Regions from separate parts of the Homo sapiens genome. Here region 2 is linked to region 1. The links come from fine-mapping of genetic effects on gene expression. A gene starts in region 1. The other region holds a variant in brackets. All regions are shown on one strand. Distances are from middle to middle.

Evidence for each region.
Region 2: its variant is fine-mapped to the expression of TUT7 in whole blood (TOPMed, PIP 0.93).

Annotation. Positions count from the first base shown.
Region 1 is chr9:86,346,306-86,362,368 of GRCh38, reverse strand. It overlaps TUT7 (terminal uridylyl transferase 7), which reads left to right and starts at 7,959. Exons shown (of 27, transcript NM_024617.4): 1 at 7,959-8,098; 2 at 9,139-9,689; 3 at 15,889-16,063. The coding sequence starts at 9,170. RefSeq lists a silencer at 7,701-7,880 and an enhancer at 7,901-8,110.
Region 2 is chr9:86,219,056-86,235,118 of GRCh38, reverse strand. C9orf153 (chromosome 9 open reading frame 153) reads left to right here. Exons shown (of 4, transcript NM_001276366.4): 2 at 5,490-5,581; 3 at 7,089-7,264; 4 at 13,386-14,854. The coding sequence starts at 5,516. The coding sequence ends at 13,431. Among named protein-coding and RNA genes, the nearest start is that of C9orf153, 33 kb to the left of the region's middle. The variant C/T (reference allele first, on the strand shown) is at 8,878.

The sequences.
Region 1 (16,063 bases):
AGGATACCAAGATGCAAATGCCTGGTGGAATAGATCAAATATTCCGTCCGCACATTAAACAAAAGCAATTGTTATGCTTGTACGCACAGCAGGCCAGAGTCCCAGACTGTCCCCTTTCCACTAGGGTGACCCTCCACTTGACCAGGCATAGGCTGCATGGCAGCTCTTTTCCAGGATTCTACAGCCTAGAGTAATAAGTTGTGCCAAGCTCCCTCTCTGCTATATCCCGAAGTCTGGCACCCTGTGGGTCAGCCCCCGAGGGCTATCCAGCTTCCGTCTCCCAACACTAAGTTCACTTCATGTCTCTCACAACAGGGAGGAAACAGCGTTCCTTGGAGACCTGAAGGGATGCAGTGAGCTTAAGAATTTTCAAGAGCTTATCAATCAGTCAGCCCTTGTTCATCCCCAAGTGGATATGTGGTGGTATTGTGGTGGACCTTTACTGGACACTCTGACAAATAACTGAAGTGGCATTTGTGCTTTAGTTCAATTGGCTATCCCTTTCACCCTGGCATTTCATCAACCAGAGGAAGGAAAAATAAGACATCATAAAGCGAGAGAAGCCCCTTATGGGTCTTTTGACTCTCACATCTATTTAGACACAATTAGAGTCCCATGGGGAATACCAGATCAATTTAAAGCCTAAAATCAAATAGCTGTAGGATTTGCATCAATATTTTGGTAGGTGACAATTAATAAAAATGTAGATTGGATAAACTACATCTACTACAACCAATAGCGATTTATTAACTACACTAGAATTAGGAGTTTGCATCATGATTAAAACTCAATGTTGCACCTTCATCCCAAACAACACTGCCCCTAATGGAAGTATAACAAAAGCATCGCAAGGTCTGACTGCTCTATCCAACAAGTTAGCCCGCAACTCAGGGGTAAATGACCCTTTTACAGGATGGCTAGAAAAGTGGTTCGGTAAATGGAAAGCAATAGTAGCCACAATTCCTACTTCCCTCACAGTCATAATAGGTGTACTTATTCTTGCTGGCTGCTGTGTCATACCATGCATCTGTAGGTTGATGCAGAGGCTCATAAAAATGGCACTCACTAAAACCTCCCTTAACTATCCTCACCTTATCCAGAGAAGCTTCTTCTTTTGCAAAATCAAGCAAAACAACTAAGCCAAGACATGTTTAAAAAGTTTGAAAAGAAAGCTGTAAGGAAATAGAAGAGGAGGGGTTGTTAGATATGAGTCCTAAATTTCTTTTCAAAGAATCAATATGTCAGTATGTTCAATTCTTTGCCTTCTACTTTTAAACTTAACTTCCTCATAAAGCAACCTTTTTCGATTACCTACTCCACCCTGACTCATTCCAATCACCTGCTCTGTCATAACCATTTTTCCTGCCAAACCACTCACTCCATCACTCTCTTCAAATTAGCCAATCGGAATTAGTTTAGCCTCTGTCGCCTAACCCTAGCCAATAAGGGAAGGACACAGTAGCAGTGGCCACATGCATCAGGGATAAGAACCCCTTCCCCTCCCTTGTCCAAGTGTGTGCTCACCATTGCTCCATCTGTAAGGGCACACCCTTCTATAGAAGTACCTTGCCTTCCTGAGAATCAAAAAGAAAATTTTATATTCAAGTGCTATTTCTTTTGCAGCACCGAAACTTTATATATAACATCACTACGTTACCAAGGCTGGTCTCAAATTCCTGGGCTCAAGAAATCCTCCCACCTTGACCTCCCAAAGTGCTGGGATTATAGGGTAAACAACCACGCCCAGCCTATAAGCCACTGTGCCGGCAAAATTTTGCATAGAAGGCTGATTTATGGGTTATAACAACAATTTAATTAGTTATGGCTTGTTTTCATTTCCATACAGCTTGTTTTCATTTTCTTCTCAACTTAAGAGTATATTTAACATTCCCTCTTAGACAATGTGCTAGTCATAAGCCTTAGTGTGAGAGAGTTAAGAGGAAAGGTAATCTATAATGAAGATCAACAGTAAAGAGAAAAGGGGTCTTCTCTGGAGCCCATTAGTCATTTACAACATTTTACAAAACAATATAGGTAAAGAAGAAGGTTAATCTATAATGAGAGAAACAAAGGCTACAGCTGCCTAGGTTATAGCTGCCTGTCAAGTGACTCAGGCTCCATAAGCACATTCCTTTAAGGTTCAAAAAATTTAAAGTTTCAACAGCTTAGATTTTTAAATTCTTTTTACAAGACAAAAAAATACACCGGGTAAAATGTTAGATTAAAATTTAAATGGGTGGTCAGGGCTGGGTGTGGTGGCTCACGCTTGTAATCCCAGAACTTTGGGAGGCAGAGGTGGGTGGATCACCTGAGGTTGGGAGTACAAGACCAGCCTGGCCAACATGGTGAAACCCCATCTCTACTAAAAATTCAAAAAACTTAGCTGGGTGTAGTGATGGGCACCTGTAATCCCAGCTACTCAGGAGGCTGAGGCACGAGAATCGCTTGAACCTGGGAGGTGAAGGTTGCAGTGAGCTGAGATCGCGCCACTGCACTCCAGCCTGGGCAACAGAGCAAGACTCCATCTCAAAAATAAATAAATAAATAAAATAAATAATAAATAAGTAAATACATAAATAAATTGGTGGTCAGAATAGGCTGCATTAAGAATGTGACCTTTCAGCAAAGACATGAAGGGAAAGAGGAAGTGACCAATATAGATGTCTTAGGGAAACTGTTTTAGGCTGAGGGAACACCCAGCGCAAAGCCCTGAGGCTTGTGATGGAAGAATTGCAAGGCTAGCATAGTCGGGGTGCAATGTGTGTGTATGGGAGGGGATGTAATGAAAAAAATAGTTTCCACTCTATTCTCACATTCAATACAGCACATTTCTGTGACCAGATAAGTGGAGATTGGTGATTTCCCCACATACCAAGTGTTGGAGCTTAGAAAATGATGCCCCAACATGTGGCACTTTGGCATGCTGTGTGCCTTTAACAAGGAAATTGAAAGGGCTCAGAAATAAATCTCAGAACCAAGGACTGTCTGATTTTCTCTTGCCTCACCCCACCACCCTCACCCACCTACAGGAAGGGAGGGACTTTCTCTAAACTTCCTTTATCTGATTAAGGGAAGTTTCTCCAGAAGAAATGCAATTGTCTTAGACCCCCTCCTTGGAATCTACACTAACTAGAGAAGATGAACTCGTATCTCAGGAGAGCCCAGGACAATGTACCTGGACAGGCTTTTTTTTTTTTTCTAGACAGAGTCTCACTCTGTTGCCCAGGCTGGAGTACAGTAGTGCAATCACAGCTCACTGCAGCCTCGACCTCCCTGGGTTCAGGTGATCCTCCCACCTCAGTCTGCTGAGTAGCTGGGACTACAGGTGTGTGCCACCATGCCAGGTTAATCTTTTGTATTTATCGTAGAGATGGGGTTTTGTCATGTTGCCCAGACTGGTCTCAAATTCCTAGGCTCAAGTGATCCTCAGGCCTCAGCCTCCCAAAGTATTGGGATTACAGGTGTGAGCCACCACGTCTGGCTGGACACACTTTTCACCTATTTTTTTAAAACCATTTTTCTAGTCTGAAAGACTTTATCTGTATAAGAAGAAACTTTTGCTCAACACACACTTACTCTACCCTCACCTTTCAATGACTGTGGTCACCACCTCCCCATCAGAGGCCCTGGTTTCTTTCTGTAGCTCAGGGTCCCATTTAAGCTTCAGCCATTTGGCCCTTCTTTGAGTTTCATACTTTGTTTGGGTCTCGCTAGCTTGCAAGTTAATAAATCGATATGTTTTTTCTCCTGTTAATCTGTCTATTGTCAGTTTGTTTTATAGATTCAAACCATCAAAGCTTCTGAGGGTATAAAGTTCCTTCTGCCTTTACAGAAGCAATTATACCAACTTGGTGTCCTATAATCCATTTCAATTCTATCTACCTGGCAATAGTGTCAGATCCCACAGGTGAGGGCTCAGCCCTACGAGTTTGCCCCCACTTCAGATACCAGTCACAAGTCAAAGCCACCCATACTTCTGACTGACTGGTTTCTGAGGTTCCCGTGTCCCCAGTGGCCCAGAGAACTCAGGGAAACACGCTTACTGGTTTATTATAAATGATATTATAAGGTATACAGATGAACAGCCAGATGAAGAGGTACATAGGGCAAGGGCACAGAGCTTCCATGCCCTGTCTAGGTGAGCCAACGTTCAGCACCTACATGTGTTCAACTATAGGGAATCTCATCAAATCTTTTTGTTCAAGACTACTTAGAGAGCTTGATCTCCGGCCCCCTCCTCCCCTTCACAGAGGTCAGTTGGTGAAGCTCAAAGTTCTAACCCTCTAATCCTCCAATCACTTGGTCTTTCTGGTGATTAGCCCCATGCTGAGGCTATGTAGGGCCCCCATCCTAAATCATCTCATTAGCATAAACTCAGGAGTTTAGGGGCTCACTATAAACACGGAAAGACACTTCTATCACTCAGGAAATTTCAAGGATTTTAAGAGCTCTATGACAGAAACTGGGGACAAAGGCCAAATATATTTTATATTATACCACTGGGGTAAGAGGAATAAGGGCTGAGATCGGGAGGTAAAGGGAAAGGCCCTGAGTCATTGAAGGATTTTGGTTTTTACTCCCAGAGAAATTGGGAGCCAGTGAAAGGTTTTGAGGGGTAACTCAGTCTGATTTTTAATATGCATTTTCTGGCTATTGTGTCAAGAGTAGATTGGAGGACAAGGTGGAAGCAAGTGATAGTGGTGAGCATTTGGCTGGAAGCAGAGAAAGTAGTGATAAGTTACTGGACTCCAGACAGATTTGAAGGACAAACCAACATAACTTGCTAACAATGTGGATAAAAACCGCTGGCATTTAAGCATTAGAGCTCTAAAAACCGAAAACCAAACCAAACCAAACAAAATAAAACACTGGGGAAAGAATTTGGCTGATAAAGCTATGAATATAATTCCTGTATTTCTGACTCCATGGCTGTATAGAAAAAAAGCACTGGGTTTGTTCAAAGTTGACTTGTCAAGATGTATTACAATGTTAATTTCAAGATAGAATTACAAGAATGTCAAGATGTATTACATGTGTTACAATGTAAACTTCAAGATGTATTACATGTATTACAATGTGAATTTCAAGATAGAATTACAAAAATGCCAAGATGTATTACATGTACTACAATGTTAATTTCTAGATAGAATTACAAGAATGTCAAGACATATTATGTATTAAATGTTAATTTCGAGATAGAATCACAAGATTTCAAGTTGTATTACAATGTTAAGCTCAAGATAGAAAATATATTGTAACATATGGAGCAGTATTAAGGTCCTCTGAACATTGCTTAACAGTATATGGCAGCCTTTGCCCTCACATTTCTGCTCCAGGTTGTTGGAAATATGTCAAGACCGTGAAGCAATCACCATAAAGATTCTGAGAAACTCATTAATCCTTCCAGTGACATCCAAAGAAAACTCAAATCAAAATTTCCAACCAGATTGTAAGAATTCCTAGGACCAATTTAAATATCCATTACAGCATAATATGGACAGAAAAAGGTATATTCTGCTGTCAATATATTTTGATTAGTACTGCATCTTATTTGAGAGAGCCTGATTTGTCCTCAAAATGAATCTTAAAAGCAACCATTAGAATAAAAGAAGTTGGGCTTTGGGAAAGACGTTGAAGAAAACGCAAATTCAAAACGTTTTATTTTTTAAATTTATTTTTGAGAGAGACAGGGTATTGCCCTGTTGCCTAGGCTGGAGTGTGGTGGCACCATCATAGCTCACTGCAGCCTCCAACTCCTGGGCTTAAGGTATCCTCCTACCTCAGTCTCCAGGGTTGCTGGGACTACAAGCAGGAGCCAAAGTGCCTGGCAAAAGTATTTTAAATCGGGCCAGGCCTGGTGGCTTACGCCTGTAATCCTAGCACTTTGGGAGGCCAAGGCCGGTGGATCACTTGAGGTCAGGAGTTCCAGACCAGCCTGGCCAACATGGTGAAACCCCGTCTCTACTAAAAATACAAAACTTAACCAGGCATAGTGGTGCCTGTCTGCAATCCCAGCTACTTGGGAGGCTGGGGCAGGAGAATCACTTGAACCTGGGAGGCAGAGGATGCAGTAAGCCAAGATCGCACCACTACACTCCAGCCTGGGCAACACAGTAAGACTCTGTCTCAAAAAAAAAAAATTAAATCCTTAGAAAGATGTATCCTCTGCTGCTGCTCTAGAACTCTAGGTGGAGGCAAAGGTTGCAGCCAGCGGAGATCATGCCACTGCACTCCAGCCTGGGCAACAGAGTGGCACTCCATCTCAAAAAAAAAAAAAAAATCCTTAAAAGTATGTATCCTCTGCTGCTACTCTAGAACTCTAGGTGGAGGCAGATTTCTAAACCAGTTCTTTTGCACAGGAATTACTGGTTTGGGTGGGGCGTGGTGACGCTGCTGTCTCAGAATTAATGTAATCATGCATCTCCACACTCCCTTTTGGACTATATTTTCAAGGCCACTGTCTGCCTGTTGAAGAGACTATCAGTTTGATCCTCACGTATTTTCACAATCAAAATATCTAAGTAAGGAATTATATAAAAGTTGTAGGAATGTGTTTTATATCACTTTTAGTATAGCCACATGGTTAATAACAGCCTCATATTCAGGGTCTGGATTGCAGCAGTGCCATTTACTTCACTGCAAGTGCTAAATGTCCTCATCTTTAAAAGTGGGATAATGATATAGTCTTCATGAAGCTGTGAGGATTAAAGAAGTTAAGGCTGGGTATGGTGGACCACCCCTGTAATCCCAACACTTTGGGAGGCCAAGTTGGGCGGATGGCTTGAGGTCAGGAATTGGAGAGCAGCCTGGGCAACATAGGAGACCCCTGTCTCTACAAAAATATAAAACAAAGGAGTTAATATTTGTAAAGCCTTCAAAACAGTTATTGGCATAGCCAGAACTTTGTGTGTTATTATTTTAAGACCATTGCTCCACAGGACCTGACAGCTTTCAATTTACATGCTTTAAAAAAGCAGAGAAATGAAAACTGTCGATTTTCCCAACGCTCCCTAATTTCACTAGTTGCTTGATGTTTTTCAAAGCATTTAGAACACTGTAAACAGCAAGGAAGGTCATACAGTAAAGAAAGAAAAAGCAACCCCGAGTTCGAGGTGTGCACTCTTCAACTCAAAAATTCGAATGTAACGCTCTCTGGTCATCCCTTGCCATTACACATATTCTTCGAAATGAACTGATTTTTTTTTTTTCCAAGTAAAAGTAATCCTTACACAACCTAAGAAAAAAGCAGAGCATTTTCCTTGACCACTTTGAGATCTGGGTGAGCAGTGGATGTTTAAATGCTGGCATTTCTACAAGGTCGGCAATTAAGAATTCACGAAAACATTAATCACTACGAATTATCAGAAAAACACCAAGAGCGCTACGAGGCCTCGGAGCCTTTACTCCCCCTGGAAGTAACCGGGGAGCACCCAGGGGCAAAGCCGAGGCCCCAAGCGCGGGGAATGCGGCTTTGCCCGACCGCTGGCTCCGCGTCCCTCTCCGGGTGCATAAGTCTTGGCTCCCGCGCCTCTCCCGAGCACTTAGCCTCCCGAGCAGAGAGGGGAACCAGAGGAGCGTCGAAGCCGGGAGAGAAAAGGGGCGGGCGCCGCTCTGGTAAGAAGTTCGGGCCTGGCCCCCAAGCGCCGGCGAACCGGCTATCCGGCGAGCCAGTAATTAGCCCGCTCCGACGGTTGCGCCCGGTGGCCAGACCCGGCGCCCGACACCTGGAGCGAGTGCGCTGGGGCGCCGGACAGGAGAGGCCAGGCTGGCAAAGGCGCGGGAGGCGGGGTCGGAGCGTGGGCGGGGCACCGCGGGGCGGGGCGCGTCGCTCGTTTCCGGTGTGCGCGGCGGAGCGCTAGGGCGGGGGCACAGTCGGCTCCCAATCGCGCACAATGAGACAGCGCTGAGCGCCGGAAGTGGGGCCGAAGGAAAACACGGAGAGGGAGCCCGGCCGGGACAGGAAGAGGCTGGGGACCGCGGCGAAGGTGGTGAGTGCTCTTGGGCGCCTTCTCCCAACGTCCCTGCCAGACTCGCCTCCGGGCTGATTCTCCAGTTGGTTTCCTGGACTCCAGAGTAGCTGTCCGGCCTGGCCCCGGAGGTACGTTGGTTCCATCCCCCGCCGGCCTCCTCGCACCAGTTTGGGTGACCGAGGAACCCCCAGGCCGGCAGAGGCTGAGCCCTCGGGTTCGAGTCCGTGTTTTCACTTTTTGTCAGACTGCGGGCGCAGAAGACGGGATTTGGGTCAAGACATTCGGCTCTGGCCCCCTGGCCGGCCGGGGGAACCCTGGAACCCCATGGAGACAGCAGGTCACTTCCTGCTTCCTGGTCCCCACGGTGGCTTCTTGGCCAGGAGTGCAGGGACGCCTCCTCTTTCTCCACGTCGGGCTCAAAAGGGTGGAAACTAAGGCAGATCGGTGGTGGAGCGGTCAGATGGGGATTGAAGAGGAGTGTCATTCCTCAGGGAATTGCTGTTCCTGACAAAACCAAACTTGTTTGGGGTTGGAGAACGGGGATTGAGGAGGTTAGATGGAGTTGTCCCTTGATCGGAAACCCAGCCTCTTTAATTACAGCTGCACCTTGGTCGGAAGCCCAGCCCCTCCGTAACCTAAGCGCTCAAAGCCGGTCTGTCCAGAATAGGGGTGGTGAAGGGACGGAAAATTGGAGTTGAGAAATGTAGTACTCCTTTCACGTAAAGTTTCGGTGTATAACACTTACAAGTAATTGCCAACTTAAAAAACAAAAGACTGTTTCGGTAGTTTAGTAATAATATTGGCTTGGGATGAGGTTTTCTTTGAAGAGAAACGCCTTGTTACAGAGGGAAAAGCCGACCATACTTGATATGAGTAATATTCTACTATGCTACAGTTCTGGAACCTATAGAGCTTCTCTTATTCACACATTTAATCTTCATGCTAAATAGTAAGTATTAATTTTCATGAAGAATATTAGAGGACCAAGCCTCCCAACCTCTAGGGTAAAGCACTGATTATTAAGAATGTGATAGAATTTTTATTTTAAAAAAATAGGGAGTTTCTTTCTTACAGGCTTTGGGGCATCTGTACGATAAATTGTTATTTTGTATACTTGTATGATATCTTGTTATATAGTTTGATATTTCCCCAAAATACCTTCTTTCAGGTGCAAAGTAAGAAAATTGAAGTCAAAGACCATGGGAGATACAGCAAAACCTTATTTCGTGAAGCGCACTAAAGACCGGGGGACTATGGATGATGATGACTTCAGAAGGGGTCACCCCCAACAAGATTATTTAATAATAGATGACCATGCTAAAGGCCATGGCAGTAAAATGGAAAAGGGCCTTCAAAAAAAGAAGATAACACCAGGGAACTATGGGAATACCCCCAGAAAAGGACCATGTGCTGTTTCCAGCAATCCATATGCATTTAAAAACCCAATCTACAGTCAACCCGCTTGGATGAATGACAGCCACAAAGATCAGAGTAAGAGATGGCTGTCTGATGAACATACTGGTAATTCAGACAACTGGAGAGAATTCAAACCTGGACCTAGAATTCCTGTTATAAACCGACAAAGAAAAGACTCCTTTCAAGAAAATGAAGATGGTTATAGGTGGCAAGACACAAGAGGCTGCAGAACTGTAAGACGACTGTTTCATAAAGACCTAACAAGCCTAGAAACCACGTCAGAAATGGAAGCAGGAAGTCCTGGTAATGTTTTCCAACTTGTCAGATCACAACCCCAGAGTCAGCAATGTTTTATTCTTTTTCATCCAAATGAGTTTTGTTATTTTCAGCAATTTAGTTTCAGTTTTTCACAGTTTCTGTTTTAAGAAATGGTCACTTAGTGTGATTATTTTAAGGATAGTAATCATGATATTTGAGCAGCTAAAACACATTTCATATGTTGATCCCTTTAAAAGTTTACTTTGCCCCAGGGCTCACTTTACGTCAGTAAACATGTTTTCTGTAACGTGTTTTTTACAGAAGAGGGTAGCTATATGCTCCAGGGGACCATATCGTAATTGCTCAGTGGTTTGTGTGTTTTCAAAATTGTGATTATAATTTTGTATTTGAATAATTAATGTGTTCATAATATAAATGACAGAATATAAAGCTTTTTTTAAAAAAAAAACTTATTTGTTGATGTAAAAACACAGTATACACTGCGTATATCTCCTGCCACAAGAGATATATCTTTTGGATGTAGTGTCAGTGTCCCGAGATGGATAATCTGAGATCTTTGTTTTTCAAAAGGGATCGTGACAAACAGGTTGAGAAACAAGTTTAGAAAGTCAGAAATAGATTCAAGCTTTGCTGTTTGGTTTCAGTAAGACCAAAACTAATTTCTCGGTGCCCTCACATGCTTGGTTAATTGCCCCAAAGGGATAATAAGGAGATAATATGTTTTTCTAAAAGTAAAAAGTAGATTTTATCCATGTGGCAACGATTTCTGCAAACAGGAAGGTTATTTTTATCTAATGGGAGATATATACCGAAATGAAATAAAGTCACAAATTGGATGGAAAAAATGAAACAATATCACAGTTGGAAACATGGACTTGTAAGTTTAGTGGCTGAAAGCGTTTTTTAGTGGTTGTATAGAATGTGTTTCAAACTGGCCAGCACTTTTAAATAAATTTTTTTAGTTTAAATGCATTCAGGGAATATGGACACTTTCTAGATCACCCGATGCCTTTTCTCTTCATGTTATCTCACAGTGGCCAGTTCATACACTGGTTACCTATAAGGTGTTTGAATTTGTGTCCCATGCGTATAGAATACTTAAAAGCCAAAAGGTCGTCTTTTATCTTTACAAGGTCTTAGGATAAAAATGAAAGTCTCAAGCACTTATTAATATTAAATGGGGGGAAATGTGCTACTTGATTTTTTTTCTTTTTTCACAGATACTTCTAGTTGTCAGATCTGTTTATTTATATTTTATTTTATTTTTTGAGACGGAGTCTCGCTCTGTCACCCAGGCTGGAGTACAGTGGCGCGATCTTGGCTCACTGCAACCTCTGCCTCCTGGGTTCAAGCGATTCTCCTGTCTCATCCCCCAAAGTAGCTGGGACTACAGGCACATGCCACCACATCAGGCTAATTTTTGTATTTTTAATAGAGACAGGGTTTCACCATGTTGGCCTGACTGGTCTCAAACTCCTAACCTCCAGTGATCCACCCACCTTGGCCTCCCAAAGTGCTGGGATTACAGGCGTGAGCCACCACATTCAGCCTGATTTTTTTTTTTTTTTTTTGAGACAGTCTCACTGTGTCACCCAGGCTGGAGGTGCAGTGATGTGACCTCCTCTCACTGTGGCCTCTGCCTCCCAGGATCAAGCGGTTCTCATGTCTCAGCCTCCCAAGTAGCTGGGACTACAGGTGCACACCACCATGCCCAGCTAATTTTTCTGTTTTTTAATAGAGATAGGGTTTCTCCCTGTTGGCCAGGCTGGTCTTGAACTCCTGACCTCAAGTGATCGACCTGCCTCTGCTTCCCAAAGTGCTGGGATTACAGGCGTGAACTACCGCGCCTGGCCCTCAGATATTTTTAAATTTGAAAATTAAGAGTATATATTAATATCAAGTAGCAGAAACAGAATGAAGTGTTATAAAGGCGTTAAGTAGTAGGGAGACATAAAACTTAAATCTTTAAGCTAGAAATAGCTTGAGGAATTATCTGATGCAGTACTCTGTTGTAATATATCAAAAATGGAATCACAGTTTTACAAATCAGGCAGCTGCAGCTCAGAGAGGTTAAATTTCCACAGACCTGTTTATGCAGCGCGGTAAATGAGGAAGTAGAACTAAAATTGGGGACTCTGCTACTCTGGCCATTAACTCAGCCTCGCTGGACCTGAAATCCTGACGGCGGAGCCGAATATTTCTTGATAATTTCTGGGCTTTTGATTTGTGTTTTTCTTTATTAAAAATTGTGTATATTTAAGTGTTTCTGTATTACTGTCCAGGTGGGATGTGGGTATTTAATTTTGTTACCTATAGTCTTGTAGAAGTTGATCTTGAAAACCATTTCATTTTATTATTATTATTCTCTTTTTTGAGATGGAGTCTCGCTCTGTAGCCCAGGCTGGAGTGCAGTGGTGCGATCTTGGTTCACTGCAACCTCCATCTCCCAGGTTCAAGCAATTCTCTTGCCTCAGCCTCCTGAGTGGCTGGGACTACAGGCACGTGCCACCACACCTAGCTAATTTTTGTATTTTTAGTAGAGTTGGGGTTTTAGCATGTTGGCCAGGGGTAGTCTCGATACCCTGACCTCATGATCTGCCTGCCTTGACGTCCCAAAGTGTTGGGATTACAGGTGTGAGCCACTGCACCCGGCTGAAAAGCATTTTAAAAAGAAAGTTTATAGATCAAAAATTTGCAACTAGACATTAAAAGGAACTGTTGGCTGACCACAAAAACTTTTATATGTTTTCTTATTTTATGTGTATTCTTATAAAAGCAACTAAAGAAGTTGCTTTTAAGTGTATTTGAATAGGAAATGCATTTTGCTATTTTTTTATTGGAGGTAATTCAAAAGTTTGCATGTTTTTGCTGTATGACATACAGGTATATGCTTTCACAGTTATTAAGTAAAGAATTATTCAGTTTCTATCCCTTGAAAATCTTCATATAGGAAGCATTAAGCTTCGGTATAACATTATTTAGTTTAGAGAGATTCAACTGAAAGTATAAACTAAAAAGGATCTCATTAAAGAGATCGAAATTTCTTTATCAAAATTGTGTCTTAATAAGGAAGGGTATTATTCAACAATGTGAGAAGATATAATGGAAATTATGGTGGAGTTGCTTTTTTCCCCCCCACATACGGTACTACCTTCTGTTTTTTTCAGCTCTACATTACTGCCCCTACTTTAGCCTTCAAATGTCCTAGATTGCCAGTTTAATGTATTTGGGACATTGCCATTAATGATCTTAGCTGGAAAGCATCCACTCAAATACACATGTCCTTTGTGAACCATATGCAAATAAAATATGGGAAACTTGGAATGCCGAATATAGAGAACTCTTATTACAATAAATCTGAGGTAAGCCAGGTAGTCTTCCTCCAAGTAATTATGAGAATTTTTCTTTTTTCTTTTTTTTTTTTGAGATGGAGTTTCACTCTTGTCGCCCAGGCTGGAGTGCAATGGCATGATCTCGGTTCACTGCAACCTCTGCCTCCCGAGTTCAAGCAATTCTCCTGCCTCAGCCTCCCGAGTAGCTGGGATTACAGGTGCCTGCCACCACGCCCAGCTAATTTTTGTATTTTTAGTAGAGACAGGGTTTCACCATGTTGGCCAGGATGGTCTCGAACTCCCGACCTCAGGTGATCCACCTGCCTCGGCCTCCCAAAATGCTGGGATTACAGGCATGAGCTGCCACGCCTGGCCAAGAATTTTTCATCAGTACCTAGCTTTACCCTCCAAGAGTCCCTCCGGTGAGATTTTGACAGTTTTTACCATGCATGCCTGTGAAAGTAGGTTTAGAAGGTTATATTGCCTTTCAGTGCTAGTCCACTCTAGATGTGAATGGGTATGTTCCAAGAAGGGATTTTAGTAATTTCTTTCCAGTTTTTATGTTGTTAGTTAGAAGGCTGAATTTCAGGATTTCATCCTTTTTTTGTTTGTTTGTTTTTTAGACAGAGTCTCACTCTGTCACCCAGGCTGGAGTGCAATGGCGCAATCATGACTCACCACAGCCTCACCTCCTGGGCTTAAGCAGTCCTTCCGTCTCAGCCTCCTGAGTAGCTGGGACCACAGGAGTGAGTCATCTTGCTGGCTGATTTTTTTCATTTTTGCTAGAGATGACATCTCACTATGTTGTCCAGGCTGGTCTTGAACTTCTGAGCTCAAGCAGTCCTCCCACCTTACCCTCCCAAAGTGCTGGGAATTACAGGCATGACCCACTGCACCTGGCCCCATCCATATTTTAATCTATATTTTCAATCCCTTTACTTTGATTTAGCCATGTGTTCTTGGAGAAGTTATTCTCTTGGATTCGCATTGTCCCCATCTGTACAATGGGGACAGTATTAGCAGGATTGCTGTAGGGATTAAATAAGGCAGTACATATAAAGTGCTTTACATCTGTTGCATAATAAGATACACCATCATGGTAGCTGCCATTATCTGACAGAATTTCTGCAGCCATCCACTTCTGTATAAAAGCAGTAGGAGTTGATTGAGGTCTTTGGAGGAAGAGAGAAGTTACTCTTTCTAGAAAATGACAGCAAATATGGTTATATGGAGAAACCTTTGTGACCAGAAGAGAGGAAGAGTTTAAAAAAGGAATTCGGTTCCCTATCACTTACTGGCTTGTGAACTAATAGGGGCTTTTCTAAAGGGTATTGCAGTATTATTTTAAATTTATAGAGTTTTTGCCTAAGAAACCTGTAATAAACACTGAAGTTAGATGCAGTTTTTTTGATAATGTTTATAATGATAAGCAAACTAAATGAGAATGGATACATCTCTAAGTAAAAGAAGTGCTTATCTGAAAAAAAAAAATTGTTCAGACCAGAAATACTGGCCTTAAAAGATTATGATAATTTAATTGGGAGTCGGGGGAGTATTAAAAAGGAAATATTAAGGTAGCGCAAGGTAGCCTGATTTTCTGTTGAAATGACAACTTACCTTTTAGTATTTTATTTGTTCAGTGTATTTTGATTGATTTTTTAAAACTACTTTTCCAACACTTTAATTTTTTTTAATTTTTTAATTTTCTTATATTGTGGAAGGTGTTTGCAGAATTTTGAGATAGTCATCTCAGGTAGTTTTAGCACAATGCTTGCTGCTTATCCTTTAGCGCTCTCAGCAAGCTTTTTATAAAATTGGAGGTCCTATATTTCCTTTTCAGCCTGCCAGTTCATTGTAATTGCCATACTAGTAGTAATGAGTTCCTCTGAAAACTTGATGGAGGAATTACTTCATGTAGGGCTTTTCAGTAGGTTTATGTTTCCAAGCACTAATGTGTTACTAATAGTTTCATTTTTTAAAACTCGATATAAGTTATCAAAGCTATCTAAAACAATTTTTTATGGTTTAATCCCACAATCACTTTAACAAGTTGAAAAGTTATAAGTTTTAAAAAGGAACAGGATGATTTTTATTCATTATAAGGATTATAGAACTAATAGCAGAGTTTATAAACAAATGTACTTAGAGAAAACTTTTGTTTCAATGGCCAGTTGTTTTTTTCCTTTGAAATATGCTCAGTGTACAGGCCATTCAAAGAAGCTAAAATGAAGGTAAAGGTAAAATGAGAGATAGTTGTCCTTAGTAAATAAAATTTTGGCTTGGACTTCTTCATATTAACGGAGGGACCCGGCTTAGGTGTTATTGATGGCTAAATTTGCAACTAAATGATGATTTTTCACTCCAGATGAGTATATAGTTGATTTCTGAGTTGTCCAGGGGTACATTTTGCATTTTGCCTTATTGAGATTGTTCACTTATAGAAGATGAAAGCAAATGTGGCTGGTTTTAATGAGAATAACAGGTGTACTTACAGATATTATAGAATATGTAAGATATATTTACAATATGTATTGTAATATTTTAATATAATAGAATTATAGATATACTTGCCTTCAGAGTATAATTTTTCTGTTGCTTTGCTATGCTCAGCAGTATACCAGGAAGAGATAATAAAAATCAAATTGTATGATTGAAGTAGAATTCTTTTAAATTTTCCAAAAAGATGATTTCTATGGCTTAATGTCTACAGGTGATGTGCTCACTGAATACAGTATTAAAGCATTTTGTCCATAGGACAGCTACCTTTCCTTCTGCTCTGCATGCAGATGTGATTTATTCTCTCACATGATTTAATACATATGTAAGGTCTGCTTTTTACTCAGGAGTGGCATTATTTAATATTGCCAATAATATTTTTCCCCCACCTTAAGAAAACAAGAAGCAGAGGTCCAGACCTAGGAAGCCACGGAAGACTAGAAATGAGGAAAATGAGCAGGATGGAGACTTGGAAGGCCCTGTGATCGATGAGTCTGTACTTTCAACGAAGGAGCTGCTAGGCTTACAGCAGGCTGAGGAGAGACTGAAGAGAGACTGCATTGACAGGCT
Region 2 (16,063 bases), 130 kb after region 1:
TTTGTTGAAAGCCGAACATGATTCCTGTACTGGCTCTTCTGGAGGCTTCTGCCCTGTTCTCGAGGAGCTTCCTACTTCAGTAAGCTGCAATTCCCTGTATTTGCCTGTCTGTTTCTCCAATTTTAGGTCAGCAATTTGCCCTGTGACCTTACTTCTCTGCCAGATCTAAGAAGAGTTGCTGGTACTTCCAAGCTCCTTGCATGCCAGAGGAGAAGCCACACTAGAAGTCCCGTTGCCCATATTTCAGCTGGGTTGTCTTTTAATTGCTGATTTCTAAGTGTTCTTTGTACATCTGTATACAAGTTCCTTGTCAGATGTATGATTTGTAAATATTTTCTCTCATTCTGTGATTGGTCTTTTCACTATTTTCACTAAAGCACCAAAGTTTTTAATTGTGATGAAGTCCAACTTATTTATTCTCTTCTTCTGTAGCTTATGTTTTCGTGTTATACGCAAGAAACCATTGTCTAAGCCAGGGTCACAAAAATTTACCCTTATGTTTTATTCTAGGAGTTTTATAGTTTCAGCTCTCATACTTAGTTCTATAATCCATTTTAGGTTCATTTTGTGTAAGGATTGAGGTAGGGGTCTAATGTCATTCTTCTATGTGTGGATATTTAATTGTCCCAGCACCATTTATTGAAAAGACTATTTTCCTCCATTGAATTATTTTGGCAACTTTGTCAGAAAATCGATTCACCATAATTGAGTTCTCTTTAAATAATTTTTAGCCTTTATTTCATTTCCTGTTATTTATGTTTCCCTTTTATATGACACAATAGCTATTCAACATTGTGGTTCTCTCCATTTCAGCTTCAGTTCTACTATGTTTTTATTTAGATTGTCATAAAAGAGAAGGAAGGACATTCTGTCTGACTAAATGGGAAATCAGAGTGAGCATAAGCTCAAAGAAAGAATGCACAGAAGCGCAGAAGATTTTTTCAGAAAAAAATGAGCCCAGCTGGCTAAAGTACAGAGAACATTTATGGCATTGCGGTAGCATTGAAATATGGTCATTATTATTATCATTTTTTTTTGAGACAGAGTCTCACTCTTTCTCCAGGCTGGAGTGCAGTGGCTTGATCTCAGCTCACTGCGACTTCCACCTCCCGGGTTCAAGCGATTCTCCCGCCTCAGCCTCCCGAGTAGCTGGGACTACAGGGATGCACCACCATGCCCAGCTAATTTTTGTATTTTTAGTAAAGATGGGGTTTCACCATGTTGGCCAGGATGGTCTTGATCTCTTGACCTTGTAATTCACCCGCCTCAGCCCCGCAAAGTGCTAGGATTACAGGCGCCAGTCACCGCGCCCGGCCGAAATATGATATTTTTAAATGATAGAAAAGTGTCAGAAGCAGATTGTGAATAGTCTTTGTAAGTCTGGTCAAGAAATTTATAAATTGGACGAGCACAGTGGCTCACACCTGTAATACCAGCACTTTAGGAGGCCAGGGCAGGTGGATCACCTGAGGTCAGGAGTTTGAGACCAGCCTGGCCAACATGGCAGAATCCCGACTCTACCAAAAATACAAAAATTATCCAGACATGGTGGCACATCCCTGTAATCCCAGCTACTCAGGAGGGTGAGGCAGGAGAATTGCTTGAACCCGGGAGACGGAGGTTGCAGTGAGCCGAGACTGCGCCACTGCACTCCAGCCTGGGTGAGAGAACCAGACTCTGTCTCAAAAAAGAAAAAAGAAAAGTGAGGACTGTAAAAACTACACTAGAATTGATAATTAAGAAGTCACTATTGTTTTTAAGAATTCAATTTTAGTTCATCAGCCAGGTGGAAGCTAAATGTCATTATACTGAAGATTACATGATGAAAATATAAATACAGCAAGTTCAGAGGTAAAGAAGAGACAAGAGTCCAGGGTTAGTGGTAGGATCACAGTCAAGAGAAGTTGCATTATTACCCCAAGTGGAAAACATTTTACATATTTGCAAAGAAAGGAAGGAGCCATTGGGGAACATGAGACTGAAGATAAGAGAATGATAGGAAGCAAGAAGGAAGACAAGAGGAGTTGTTGTTGGAAGGGAAGGGAGGATAACTGAGGGGAAATATTCCACAAGAGTTATGAGGAGGGGCCGGGCGCAATGGTGCACGCTTGTAATCCCAGCACTTTGGGAGGCTGAGGTGGGTGGATCACTTGAGGTCAGGAGTTTGAGACCAGCCTGGGCAACATGGCAAAACCCTGTCTCTACTAAAAATAAAAAAATTAGCCGGGTGTGGTGGCGCTTGCCTGTAGTCCCAGCTGCTTGGGAGGCTGAGGCAGGAGAATGGCTTGAACCCGGGAACTGGAGGTTGCAGTGAGCTGAGACTGTGCCACTGTACTCCAGCCTGGGTGACAGAGTGAGACTCTATCTCAAAAAAAGAAAAGAAAAGAAAAAGAATTACGAGGAGGATAAAATATACACCCTGGGTGGGAGAGAGAAAAAATTAACATTAGATGAGCAGAGAGAACTTTTTTCCTTCTGATTTGGAGGGAAGGGTGAAAAGTTGGGGGTGAGTGCAAATGGAGAAGAGGATACCATCCCCGAGAGTTTCTGTGAGACGCCCTTGCTCTTCACAGTACAAGGAAAATTTACTGTAGGAATCTGTGGGAGTAACGATGAAGAGAAGTGCCACAGTCCCCTGCAAAAGCTTCACTTTACTCACACAAATCTGTAAACAGGCCATTGGCCATATTTCCATGACTTCACCAGGAACACTCTCCATGAGAGATTGGGTCAAAGGGCTGGTCTAGATTTAGGCATTGACTTGGATCAAGCAAAAACTGAGGTTAAAAGTTTGCTAGTCAAGTCAACCTTTAAGTGTCTAAAAGCATTTTCGGCTAGTGATCTGTTTCAGCATTCGGAATCCTGACACTTCAGTGAGAGGGAAATGCACCCAACGGTAGTTTAGCAAAGAGAATGAGCAAGAATCTAAACTTATTTGTGCTCCATTCCTTGTCATCATCAATACTATTGTAATAACATGAGGACATATTTCTTAGCTATTGCTTTGACTCCATGTATAGAGAGTTGGAGATTGGCCATTGAAGTTGGATATTGGCACTGCTGATTAAAATTGGGAGGTGGCAGGGAGAGAGAGAGAAAAGGGGAGAGAGGCGAGAGATTACATCTTTCCCTCCTCTGAGGGAAGGGAGGAGAAAATTTATTAACCCTTGGTGATGGGAGAAGGCAACCTTCCTATGGTGGACAACTCTGAAGCTGTCTGAAAGACAATAGCAATGATTGACTGGAAGACATTGACAGGTTTTAGGTAAAGCACATTAGAGAAATATTTTCCTTTGCAGAAAAAATTTCCTTCCTTTGCAGGAGGAAAGCACAATCAAGTCTCATTGTAATTGCCTAGAGATAAACAGGTCTGTGGCAGGCATGCTGCACTGTATTGCTTTTCTAGTCCTGTATATCAATATAGTGATCTCAGTAGTGACAAATAGTGACAAAAATGTATTTGAGATTTTATATATATATGTATATATGCATATACATACATGTATATATATATATATATCCATGTTTGTGTATGTGTGTGTGTGTGTTTTTGTGTGTGTGTGTATCCATTCTGGGTTTTTCTACTTTACTCAGGAAGGAAGAGAAACATAATTGTTTTCACTTCATTCCAAATACCAAGTGAGTGTTTTTGGTTCATCTCAGACACTCATCCCAGTGACCACAGCTGCCAGTCATGATACAGTGGTACCCTGTACCTAGAAATATATTTTCCATCCATATATTCTCTTACCTACCAATAAGGGTTTCACTGGAATAAATTAAGCCAAGAATGTGAAGTTTTATGGGGTTTATCTGTATTTATTGCTATATAACAATTCATGCAAAGCTTAGTGGTTTGAAACAATAATAATTTACTCTTTGTCAAAATTTTAGAGTTGCCTTGCTCAGCTGGGAGGTAGTTCTTCTCCATCTGGGATTGGCTGAGGTTGCTTATGCTGCTGTAGTTATCTGGAGGCTCGTCTGGGGCTGGGTGAACCAAGATGGCTTTATCTACATGTCTAGTGGTCAATACTGGCTGCTGAGTCTGCATGGTCTCTCCAGATAGGCAGCCAGATCTCTCTTTACATGGTGGCTCAGGCTCCCAAGAATGTGTAGGAAAGCCGCAAAGCCTCTTAAGGTCTGGGTTCTGGCACTCACACTATGTCACTGACACAATGCCACAAGCTATTGATCAAAGCCAAGCATAGGCCAGCCCAGTAAAATGTGGGAGAGAACTTAACTGCCACTTATCAATGAGATGAATTGTGGAGATTCCATGGCCATTTTTAACGTCTTGCAGAAAAATTAAACACAATTCCATCTGCAAAATGCCTTATAGTGTATCTGACACAAAGTAAATTATTTTCAAAATATTTATTGTTTTTATTATTATCATTACATATGAGCCTTTTCCTCCTGAATAAAAAACACTTTTTGAGTGTAAGGAGGTGGGTGAGTTTTTCTTTAGATGAACTGAAAGTTGATCAGAATATGTAAGACAAGAAAATAAAACTATCCAGCTGGGCGTGGTGGCCCACACCTGTAATCCCAGCATTTTGGGAGGCCGAGGTGGGTGGATCACCTGAGGTCAGGAGTTCAAGACCAGCCTGACCAACACGGTGAAACCCTGTCTCTACTAAAAATACAAAATCAGCCAGGTGTGGTGGCACATGCCTGTAATCCCAGCTACTTGGGAGGCTAAGGCAGGAGAATTGCTTGAACCCGGGATGCAGAGGTTGCAGTGAGCCAAGATCGTGCCATTGCACTCCAGCATGGGCAACAAGAGTGAAACTTCATCTCAAAAAAATAAATACATAAAATAAAAAATAAAACCATCCATATAGGATTTGTTACACTAGTATTAAAACTAAATACACATGTTGTAGAAGAATTTGGGTATTTCAGTGAAATGCTCAGTTGAAGCATGACAAATTTGGCAGACCTAAACTACGAAAAAGCAAATGAAAAGTTTAAATTGTATTGATATGCTTTGGATTTGTGTCCCCACCCAAATCTCACATCAAATTGTTATCCCCAGTGTTGGAGGTGGGGCCTGGTGGGAGGTGACTGGATCATGGGGGAGGATTTCCCCTTGCTGTTCTCATGATTGTGAGTTCTCATGAGACCCGGTTGTTTAAAAGTGTATAGCACTTCCCCCTTTGCTCTTTCTTTCTCCTGTCCTGGCCATGTAAGACGTGCCCTGCTTCTCCTTTGCCTTCCCCCAATAATTGTAAGTTTCCTGAGGCCTCCCCAACCATGCTTCCTGGACTGTGTGCAGAACCATGAGCCAATTAAACCTATTTTCTTATAAATTACCCAGTTTCAGATATTTCTTTAGAGCAATTCAAGAATGGACTAATACAGGTATAAAATTTTCAAAATGTCCCACTCACAAATTTATTAAGATTTAAGAAGTCTCACCTCCCCCTTTGTATTCTATCTGATTTTTAATCTTTGATTTTTGTCTTTTCTCATATTGCTTTTTTTAGGAATTAGAGAATAAAATCCCAGCACGATGTTCCTCACTGGAGACACCAGTCCAGCTGAGGACAATAGAGAAGCCACCCTTCCTCAATGTTCAGTATGTACTTAACATTGTACAACGAGGTGTACACAGGGAGCTTTACATTCAAGAATCATAAACATTCAAACTATTGAACGCACAGTGACACACTTGGGAGCCATGGGAAACTCCAAAATGTCACTTTAATGACTTAACATTCTTAGTCACAGAGAAGTGTAGCTCTTCCCAGGGCAGGTGGGCAGAAGTGCTGAGCTGTTTTCGTGATAGTGTGGTTGTATAATTCGTTATAAAGAGCCATTCACCAATGTTAGCACACTTTCTTTTTTTTTTTTTTCTTTAGGAAAAGATGTATTAACCAGAGAACAATCCAGCCCAATTTCCAGGCTAAAGATTTCATGATATCGGTCCAAACATCACACTATTTAACTCCCCAAAAAAACACTGGAAAAAAAGACTATCAGTGCTAACACATTTACTTATAAAATCTCCACCTATGTACCAATTTCTAAAACAGTTACAAGACAGATACACAATTTGGGGTAAACTAACAAAACAGACTATTATAAAATATTAAAAGCAATCCTCCTGGTCCACGGGCCCTTGTCGCCTCTTACTTGAAGTTGGCGTAACTGAGAATGCATCCATATATTCCTGCACCACCTTGTAGCAGAGCTCATACTGGTTCCAGGGTCTGGACCACTTGTGTAGCCTCTGTAGCCGCAGACTCTTGACATTCTGGAAGACGTCCAAAGTCCCTTCTACTTTCCCACGCGTTAGCTCACTTTCTATTTGTTGCCCTTGCAATAAAATTGACTAGGATTGAAGGAAAACTCTGCATTGGGCTAAAGGACCTAAATTTCAGCCCTAACCTGAGACTATGGCCTCTTTGGCCTTCCAGTGTAATGGCCTAAGAAACCTCTTAGAAAGGATAGGATTTGTAGGAAGTATAGGATTTTAGATGGGGACAGGTCCTCTCAGGGATCTGTTACTGTTTTTTTCTGCCAATAACTATTCCCAGATACTCAATGTATGTCACCATTTGCTCTGGTCACATATCCCAGTGAGCAATGACTATTGTCGCCTCCTCAGCACTGGATTCCTGAACATTATGGGCTCTTTGGACAACAGGATGAAGCTCTGATATCTAAGTGATCTGGCTCGCTTTCTTCCTTCAAAGACATAATAGCATTGTTCAAAACAAGCAAAGGCCACAGTCTCCCACAGCTATTTCTCTCCGTGGTCACTCATAGAATTTCAGAGTTGGAAAGATCTTCAAGACTTCTTAGTTCAATTCTAACTGCCTAATTTTATAACAAGCATTTATAAGACGTGTCTAAATAATACATCTTTAAGGGAGTGAATCGGAGATTTGACCTCTCTGTTCTCTATTCCACATTGCCACAATTGACTTGCTTTAGTTAGGCAAAGATATCTTCCAAAGATAAAAATGCTTTTGTCTTTATGGTTATTTATTGTCCTATGGTTTTTTCTAGGGTTTGTAGGTCTGCCAGAATATTACATTTTTGTCAGTCTCGTGACTTACCACTTTTTTTTTTGTCCACAGCTTCCAGAATTATATGCATGTATTGAGAATTTTAATAAGGAGAGCAAGAAATCAAATCTTCTAAAAATGCATGGTATTTCACTTAACGAAGCACAGGAAGTACTTGCTAGAAACCTGAATGTCATGTCATTCACCAGGGGCGCTGATGTGAGAGGAGATCTCCAACCTGTTATCAGGTGCACAGTGGTTAAAAAAGAGAAGCAAGCATCCATGATTGAGCTCCTCTACCGCAGCTTACTGGCAAGCTCACTCTCTCCCATGGAGAGGCTCTCCAGGTCCCAGCAGAGGCTGTCACAGTGTGGGATCTCCCCTCCCAAGCACACTTTTCCTTATGAAATTCTCACCGATCACTCGAATGCCTTGGCCCAAGTTACCGTACAGAAGGTTCCAAGCCCCAAAATCTTATGCAGCTTAGGCATTTCCAGTGCCACCCCAGAAAAGTTCATTTCTGAAGATAAACTTTGTAGATCCTTCTTAGTTGACCCAGGTAATTTAAACAGATGAGGCCATGTGGGAGAAAAGGAATGGAAATCTCATTGCAAATTTACTAGAGCAGAAATGGTCCAATACTGACCTACAGCAATTTTGTAGTTCTGAGGTTCATGGCTGCTATTAATATGTTTGCTTTATACAGTGTCAATAAAATGAACAAGCCTGGAAAACATAGAAAGACCCCATCTCCAAAAATAAATAAATAAATAAATAAATAAATAAAAATTAGCTGAGCTTGGTGGCATGTGCCTGTAATCTCGGCTACCCGAGAGGTTTAGGTGGGAGGATCACTTGAGCACATGTGTTTGAGGTGGCAGTGAACTATGATCACACCACTGCATTTCAGCCTTGGCAACAGAGCAAGACCCTGTCTCTAAAAAATGAATAAGTAAAAATAAAAATAAAATGCAGAACAGAGAACCCAGAATTCCAGGATCAAGTCTCAGATTCACTCTTAAAAAGATATATTGTTGGGCCAGGCATGGTGGCTCATGCCTGTAATCCCAGCACTTTGGGAGACCGAGGCGGGCAGATCACCTGAGGTCAGGAGTTCGGGACCAGCCTGGCCAACATGGTGAAACATGGTCTCTACTAAAAATACAAAAAATTAGCTGGGCGTGGTGGTGGGTGCCTATAATCCCAGCTACTTGGGAGGCTGAGGCAGGAGAATTGCCTGAACCCAGGAGGTGGAGATTGCAGTGAGCAGAGATCGCACCATTGTGCTCAAGCCTGGGCCACGAGGACAAAACTCTGTCTCAAAAAACAAACAAACAAACAAACAAACAAAAAACCATGAAACTTATGATGCTGAATTTTAATGAGAAGGGAGTGTCTTACACTTTAAGTCTCCATCTTATATAATTTGAGAGAGGTAATATTTTGTCATTTTTTAATAGATTACATCAATTTGTGATAACCCTCTGAAGCAGTTTCTTGATTCAAGATAAGACCATTTTCACAGCAAATATTTTAACACCACCATTTTTATATTAAAAGTAGTGGGACGGGGCAATATGGCAAAACCCCGACTCTACAAAAAAATTTTAAAAATTAGCCAGGTGTGGTAGCATGCACCGGTAGTCCCAGCTACTCGGGAGGCTGAGGTGAGAGGATAACTTGAACCCAGGAGGCAGAGGTTGCAGTGAGTCAAGATTGTGCCACTGCACTCCAGCCTGGGGAACAGAGCAAAACTCTGTCTCAAAGAAGAAAAAAAAAAGTAATGGGAGAGGCAGAAGGAGCAAATTTAAAGGAATAGATTGATTACTGTGAGTATATTTGGTCCAAAGAGTTGGAAGAG[C/T]TTTTGCTGTAACTCCCTACATTGACATCTTAACAGAGCCAAATGCAGGCTTCGAAATCCTTTCATAGAGTCCTACGTTGCCTAAGTAGCAGTGCAATTAAAGCAATGATAGGACTGGCCTAGATAATTCGCAAAGTACACAAGTAAAGCCTGGGACCAGAGAGGAAAAATCATGAAAAGTGTTGAGACTCAGTAAGAAGAACTAATCAAAAACCTACTGAAGAAGGGTTTTGGATGTTTGATAAGGTCTTGAACATTTATGACTTTCACATGTATACGGGCCAAGTTTTTCTTTCTTCCTAATGCATGAATTACCTGCTGGTTACCTAACTTCTGGAGGTCTCTGATGTGGTCTCACAAACTGTGTTGGAGTCTCTTCTCTGCCTCCATATCTTCATTTCCTGAGATCCCAGAGGTAAATTTCTGGTACATGTCATGTCTATTCAAGAAATATGCTGGCTGGGCATGGTGGCTCACGCCTATAATCCCAGCACTTTGGCAGGCCAAGGCGGGTGGATCACCTGAGGTCAGGAGTTCAAGACCAGCCTGGACAACATGGTGAAACCCTGTCTGGACAACATGGTGAAACCCCGTCTCTACTAAAAATACAAAAAAATTAGCTGGGCGTTGCGGCGGGCACCTGTAATCCCAGCTACTTGGGAGGCTGAGGCAGGAGAATCGCTTGAACCCAGGAGGCAGAGGTTGTGGTGAGCCAAGATCGCGCCACTACACTCCAGCCTGGGCAACAGAGTGAGACTCCGTCTCAAAAAAGAAAGAAAGAAAGAGAGAAAGAGAGGAAGGAAGGAAGGAAGGAAGGAAGGAAGGAAGGAGAGAGAGAGAGAGAAAGAAAGAAACGAAAGAAAGAAGGAAAGAAAGAAGGAAGGAAGGAAGGAAGGAAAGAAAGAAAGGAAAGAAAGAAAGAAAAAGAAAGTGCATGGAGTCAGGCAGGAATCTAAGTGAAGGGTATCCAGTAATCCCTTAGGGGTAATTAGTATTGCAACAATTCATCTTCTACTCTCCTACTCAGTCCAGAAGAACTTTAGGATCCTGGTATTCCAAAGTATACTAAAGAACATATTCCTACTGGCACCAAGCACCGGGGGAGGAAAAGAGAGTGGGTGTTGCCGTTTTGCTCTTCTATCGTATGAGCTCCTCTTGTTCAGGCTAAATCCCATAGAATCATATAGCTTAGGAATCAAAAATAACAGAAAACCAAATAGTGGTTATTTTTCTTACATAATTAGAAGTCTAGGGGTACGCAGACAAGGGCCGGAACAATGCTTTTTTTTTTTTTTTTTTTTGAGACGGAGTCTCGCTCTGTTGCCCAGGCTGGAGTGCAGTGGCACAATCTTGGCTCACTGCTACCTCTGCCTCCCAGGTTCAAGCAATTCTCCTGCCTCAGCCTCTCCCATGTAGCTGGGACTACAGGTGCCCACCACCAAGCCCAGCTAATTTTTTTTTTTTTTTTTTGTATTTTTAGTAGAGACGGGGTTTTACCGTATTAGCCAGGATAGTCTCAATCTCCTGACCTCGTGATCCGCCTGCCTCAGCCTCCCAGTGCTTTTTATGTCTCTATTTATTTAATGAACACATTGTCATTGTACATATATATGGAGTACAATATATGTTTCAATAGTGTTATATAGTGATCGAATCTGTGTATTTATCCTGACCTCATGCACTTACCATTTCTTTGTGGTGATGACTTTGAAAAGCCTTCCTTCTAGCTATTTTGTAAGATACCATATCTTATTGTTAACTATCCTCACCTTACTGTGCAATAGAACACCAGAATTTATTCCTCTTATCTAACTGTAACTTTGTTCTCAATTATTTATTTACTTCAATTTTAATTTTTTTTTTTTGAGACACTGTCACCCAGGTTGGAGTGCAGTGGCACAATCTCAGCTCACTGCAGCCTCAACCTTCTGGGCTCAAGCAATCCTCCTATCTCAGCCTCTCAAGTAGCTGGGACCTCAGGTGCATGCCACCACAACTGGCTAATTTTTGTATTTTTTGTAGAGATGGGGTTTCATCATATTGCCCAGGCTGGTCTTGAACTTCTGAGCTCAAGTGATCTGCCTGCCTTGGCCTCCCAAAGTGCTGGGATTACAGGCGTGAGCCACTGGTCCTGGCCCATTTTACATTTTTTTGAGATGGTATCTTGCTATGTTGCCCAGGTTGGCCTCAAACTCCTGAGCTCAAGGAATCTTTCTCCTTCAGCCTCCCCAGTAGCTGGGACTACAGGTGCATGCCACTATGCAGGGCTTCTAATTATAACTCTGAACCCATTGACTTATCTCTCTCCATCCTCCCCTCCCACTCCCTACTCTGTCTCTGGTGACCGTGATTCCACTCTCTGTGGAGCGATGCTTTCAAATGTCTCCAAGGACCTGGGCTCTGCCATTTTTTTGTGTGTAGCTTTTGTTTTCATGTCCAAAAGACATCTTCACCCTCGGAGGCTGTGGCCACATTCCAGTCAGGAAAAGGTGGGATAGGATGAAGAGCCACATTGACACTTCTGTCCTCTTTTAATACGGAAGCAACGATTTTCCAGAACACCTCTCCTTAAGTGATTTCTTTCTACATCTTCTTGGCCAGAATTGTGTCCAATCATCACCCCTTCCTGTAGGGAAGGCTGGTGAATAAGAGTTCTTAGCTCCCCCCTCTATAGCAGAGGAAGGCAGAAGAGGATTGCAATGCGTGTGGAGTAAGCCAACCTAAAGTGTCTGTCAGAGATCATGACGTGAAGCTTCTTTTTTTATTATTTATTTTTGACAGAGTCTTGCTCTGTCACCCAGGCTGGAGTGCAGCAGCACGATCTCGGCTCACTGCAACCTCCGCCTCCCAGGTTCAAGTGATTCTCCTGCATCAGCCTCCGGAGTAGCTGTGATGACAGGTGCCCGCCACCAAGCCCAGCTAATTTTTTGTATTTTTGGTAGGACCAGGTTTCTCCCTGTTGGCCAGGCTGGTCATTTTGGGAGGCCGAGGTAGGTGGGTCACCTGAGGTCAGGAGTTTGGGACATGAGGCTCTTTAGTCATCAAAATCATCAGCTCTAAACCTTCTCTTGTTAAAGATCCCCTTCCTTCCTTTTGCCACCACTTCTTGCTATGCCAGGCCTCCAAAGATCTTGTCAAACTCCCTGAAACTTGGCAACTGGCCTTATGAATGGACTGCTGAACACCATGGCAGTATCTGTTCTACTTGGGGAGGTATGAGCCCAACGAAGAGTCTCTGGCACCTGTCTTCTACTTCAGACATGTACAAAGTCTATATAAAGACTTCCCACCAGGCAGGCCCAGGCCCTCCCAGTACAGGGATGGAGGACTGATTGGAGTGGAGTGGTGCCTGCTCAGTCTTTGGACTACAGGTGACATGCTCAAATGTCACCACATGTGGGACAGTAAGGTCACCCACCAGAAATAGACCAGTCATCCTGCTTGTCTGCTGTGACCATAATTCTCCTTATACTTGTTCCCGTGGCCCGTTGGCTCCTGGTTTTACACTCCAACCCATGCCTTTAGCCTTGATTTGTTGTTGTTTTCAGCGTTATTTAGCCATGAAAAGGGTGGAAGAGAAGGGAGAGGGGAATCGCTGCTGGTGGGGAGAACATGTGCTGTGTCTTTGCTTGATTCTTTCTCCTTGGCTCATTGGCTACTTGAAGGAATTGTAACTGCTAATGACACCTCAAGCTTGTGGTTTCTGAATGAGTATGGAGAATGGCCAGATTCTAGCTCAGCCACTGCCCTTTTATACTTAGGGCTTACATTAGCATCTTGGAAGAAATGACACTAACAATCTGTGCACTTCTAACCCATCTTCCTCCCTGTTTTTGGATCCTTTTCTCCTCCCTGCTGCTTTCGGTGCTCTGCAGAGCTCTCCATTTGCACATTCTGTTAGGATCCAAGCACAGAATGAAATACTCCGTCCACCTGCCGGGGCTCTGCAGGGTCCACTCAAGCCCAGTTAGCCAGACCCACTCAATTGCTGTTTAGGGGCAGGCTTTACATGAAATTGACATCACAGGGTCTCCCTTAAGTTTATAAAGCTTTAGGCCGGGTACAGTGGATCACTTCTGTAATCCCAGTATTTTGGGAGTCTGAGGCGGGTGGATCACCTGAGGTCAGGAGTTTGAGACTAGCCTGGCCAACATGGTGAAACCCCGTCTCTACTAAAAATACAAAAAAAGTAACCGGGTGTGGTGGCGGGTGCCTGTCATCCCAGCTACTCAGGAGGCTGAGGCAGGAGAATCATTTGAACCCGGGAGGCGGAGGTTGTGATGAGCCGATATCGCACCATTGCACTCCAGCCTGGGCAACAAGAGCAAAACTCCGTCTCAAAATAAATAAATAAATAAAAATTAAAAATAAAGCTTTAGAAATGGCTTTCTGCCAGAAAGAGGGGACTCGAGTTCATCAAAGGTTTACCCTGTCCATGAAGCATCTCTGAGTAATGAAAGGCTGAGTAACAACACCATGTGATTCTTTGAAAATATGATTCTTTTCAGGAAAACAATTCATGAATCTAAGGGATCTGGAATGGAGATATTTTAAGGGGCTTGCGAAGTGGAGGCGCACTACTGCAATTTCATTCGGAGACATAAAATACAACACTGAGAAGAGATTTGTAGAGAGCCAGGACATGCCTGACGTTATTTTCCCCCCTATAGTTCGCAAGTCTTTGGTCATTTATCCTCAAATTGATTATCAAAATGAAGGAAGTTATTCTCTTAAATGGAATATGTAGTGTATTAAAATATTTTGGACGTAGATTTTTGCTTTTGAGAGCATTGATTTAATACACAAAAAGTAAAGAAGCCAAGTACCCAATAGAACATCTGAAGTGAGTGTGTACAACACACATGAAGGTATATTGTAAAATTAAGCCGTTAATACAGAGCAAAAGGTCCGATTTAATCTGCTAACGTGAGAAGTGGTTTGGACGGTGCAACCCATTTGGACCAGGGCTAAAGCAAATATAGGTCATATGAAAAGAAAAGGTGTAACTGAAGAACACTCAAGCAAGCATAGCTTTTTAAGGAATTTTAAGCACACAAGGAAGTTCATCATCATAAAGTATTTGGTACATTCAACAAACAAATTAACATCTGAGCATATAGAGATCAATATGAGAACTTAAATATAATCTATTAACTGTCCAGTGACAAAGAAGGAAACAGCATCCATGAAATAAGAACAGAAAGATTTGTAAAAGAACAAATTGGAAATCTTGGAAATGAAAGATATAGTCATTGAAAATTATAATAATAACCCTTGATAATTATCCCAGTGGTAGCCTGGATATATCTGAAGAGAGAGGGCTAACAAGTTGGAAGACAGCATTGAAAAGCTTAGAGATCATAGCACTGTAAGACAGAAAAATAAGAGTATTGGACGGTAGAATGAGAAGTTCAGAAATGTATACGATGGAATTAGCAGAAAAAAAATAGGAGAATGGAAATTAAGTGATATGTGAAAATAAAATGACAGAAAAATCTCAAGAAACACATGAGACCTTGAACTGAAAAATCTCAGACTGATTAGCAAGATATTGAAAATAAATCTATACCCAGAAATACTGTAGCAAAACTATGGACCACTAAGCAGTAAAGGAAAATATAATCTACGAAAGAGAGATGGATTACATACAAAGAAATGACAAATTGACAATAGAATGCTCATTAACAATAGAGGTCAGAGGACAATAGTGTCATATACTTACAATGCTGAAGGAAAATAGCTGTCTGTAATTCTATAAGCAGCCAAACTCTCTCTGAGGAGTAGGGGGTAAAATAAAAATGTTAAAAAATACATGGGCCTAAAAATGTTTACTATCCATAATCCCTTGCTTAAAAAAAACTACTAATAAAGTATGTATTTTAGTAAGAACCCAGAGGGAATGCAAGAAATAATGGCAAGCAAATTGTTAACAATATATGTGTGTATGATTGTGTAGATATTAAAATACATTTCCGGATCCTGTTTCCTAATATGCTATTTTTAAAAGTCGTCTCCATATAAATGAAATTATTCTGTAGTCTCCACTTTTTGCACTATTTTTTAAAACCAGATTTTGGTATTAAAGTTTATGCTGTGGCTCATACCTGTAATCCCTGCACTTTGGGAGGCCAAGGCAGGCAGATCACTTGAGGTCAGGAGTTCGAGACCAGCCTGACCAACATGGGGAAACCCCCATCTCTACTAAAAATACAAAAATTAGCTGGGTGTGGTGGCGTGTGCTTGTAATCCCAGCTACTCAGAAAGCTGAGGCAGGAGAATCGCTTGAACTCTGGAGGCAGAGGTTGCAGTGAGCCCAGATCATAACATTGCACTCCAGCCTTGGCGATAGAGTGAGACTCCAGCTTAAAAAAAAAAAAAAAAAAAATTGTGCTGGCTTCAGCACGTGACTATCTTCAGCAGAAGATACTGTCTAAAATGAGCATGGGGTGGGTATCTGGGGTGCACACAGTGTTCTAGTTTTTAATCTTTTTGCACAGATGTGTTCAGTATGCAAAAGTTATTCAAGCTACACACAACTATTAATTTTTCTCCATGCATATTATATTTCAAAAAAAAAAAAAGGTTTTAGAGCCAAGCACAGTGCTTCACTCCTGTAATCCCAGGTATTGAGGAGGCAAAGGCAAGAGGATCACTTGAGACCAGGAGTTCAAGAACAGCCTGAGCAATGTGGTGAGACCCTGCCTCTAAAAAAATAATGTTATGGCTGGGCATGGTGGCTCACGCCTGTAATCCCAGCACTTTGGGAGGCCAAGGCGGGTGGATCACAAGGTCAGGAGATCGAGACCAGCCTGGCCAATGTGGTGAAACCCCATCTCTATTAAAATACAAAAAAAAAATTAGCCGGGCATGGTGGCGTGTGCCTGTAGTCCCAGCTACTCGGGGGGCTGAGACAGGAGGATTGCTTGAACCTGGGAGGTGGAGGTTGCAGTGAGCAGAGATCGTGCCACTGCACTCCAGCCTGGTAACAGAGCAAGACTCCATCTCAAAAAAAAAAAAGAAAAAAAAGTTACAAAAATTAGTTGGGGGTGGTGGTGTGCACCTGTAGTCCTAGCTACTTGAGAGGCTGAGGCAGGAGAATTTCTTGAGCCCGGAAGATTGAAGGTACAATGAGCTATGATCATGCCACTGTACTTCGATCTAGGCAACAAAGTGAGACCCTGTCTCT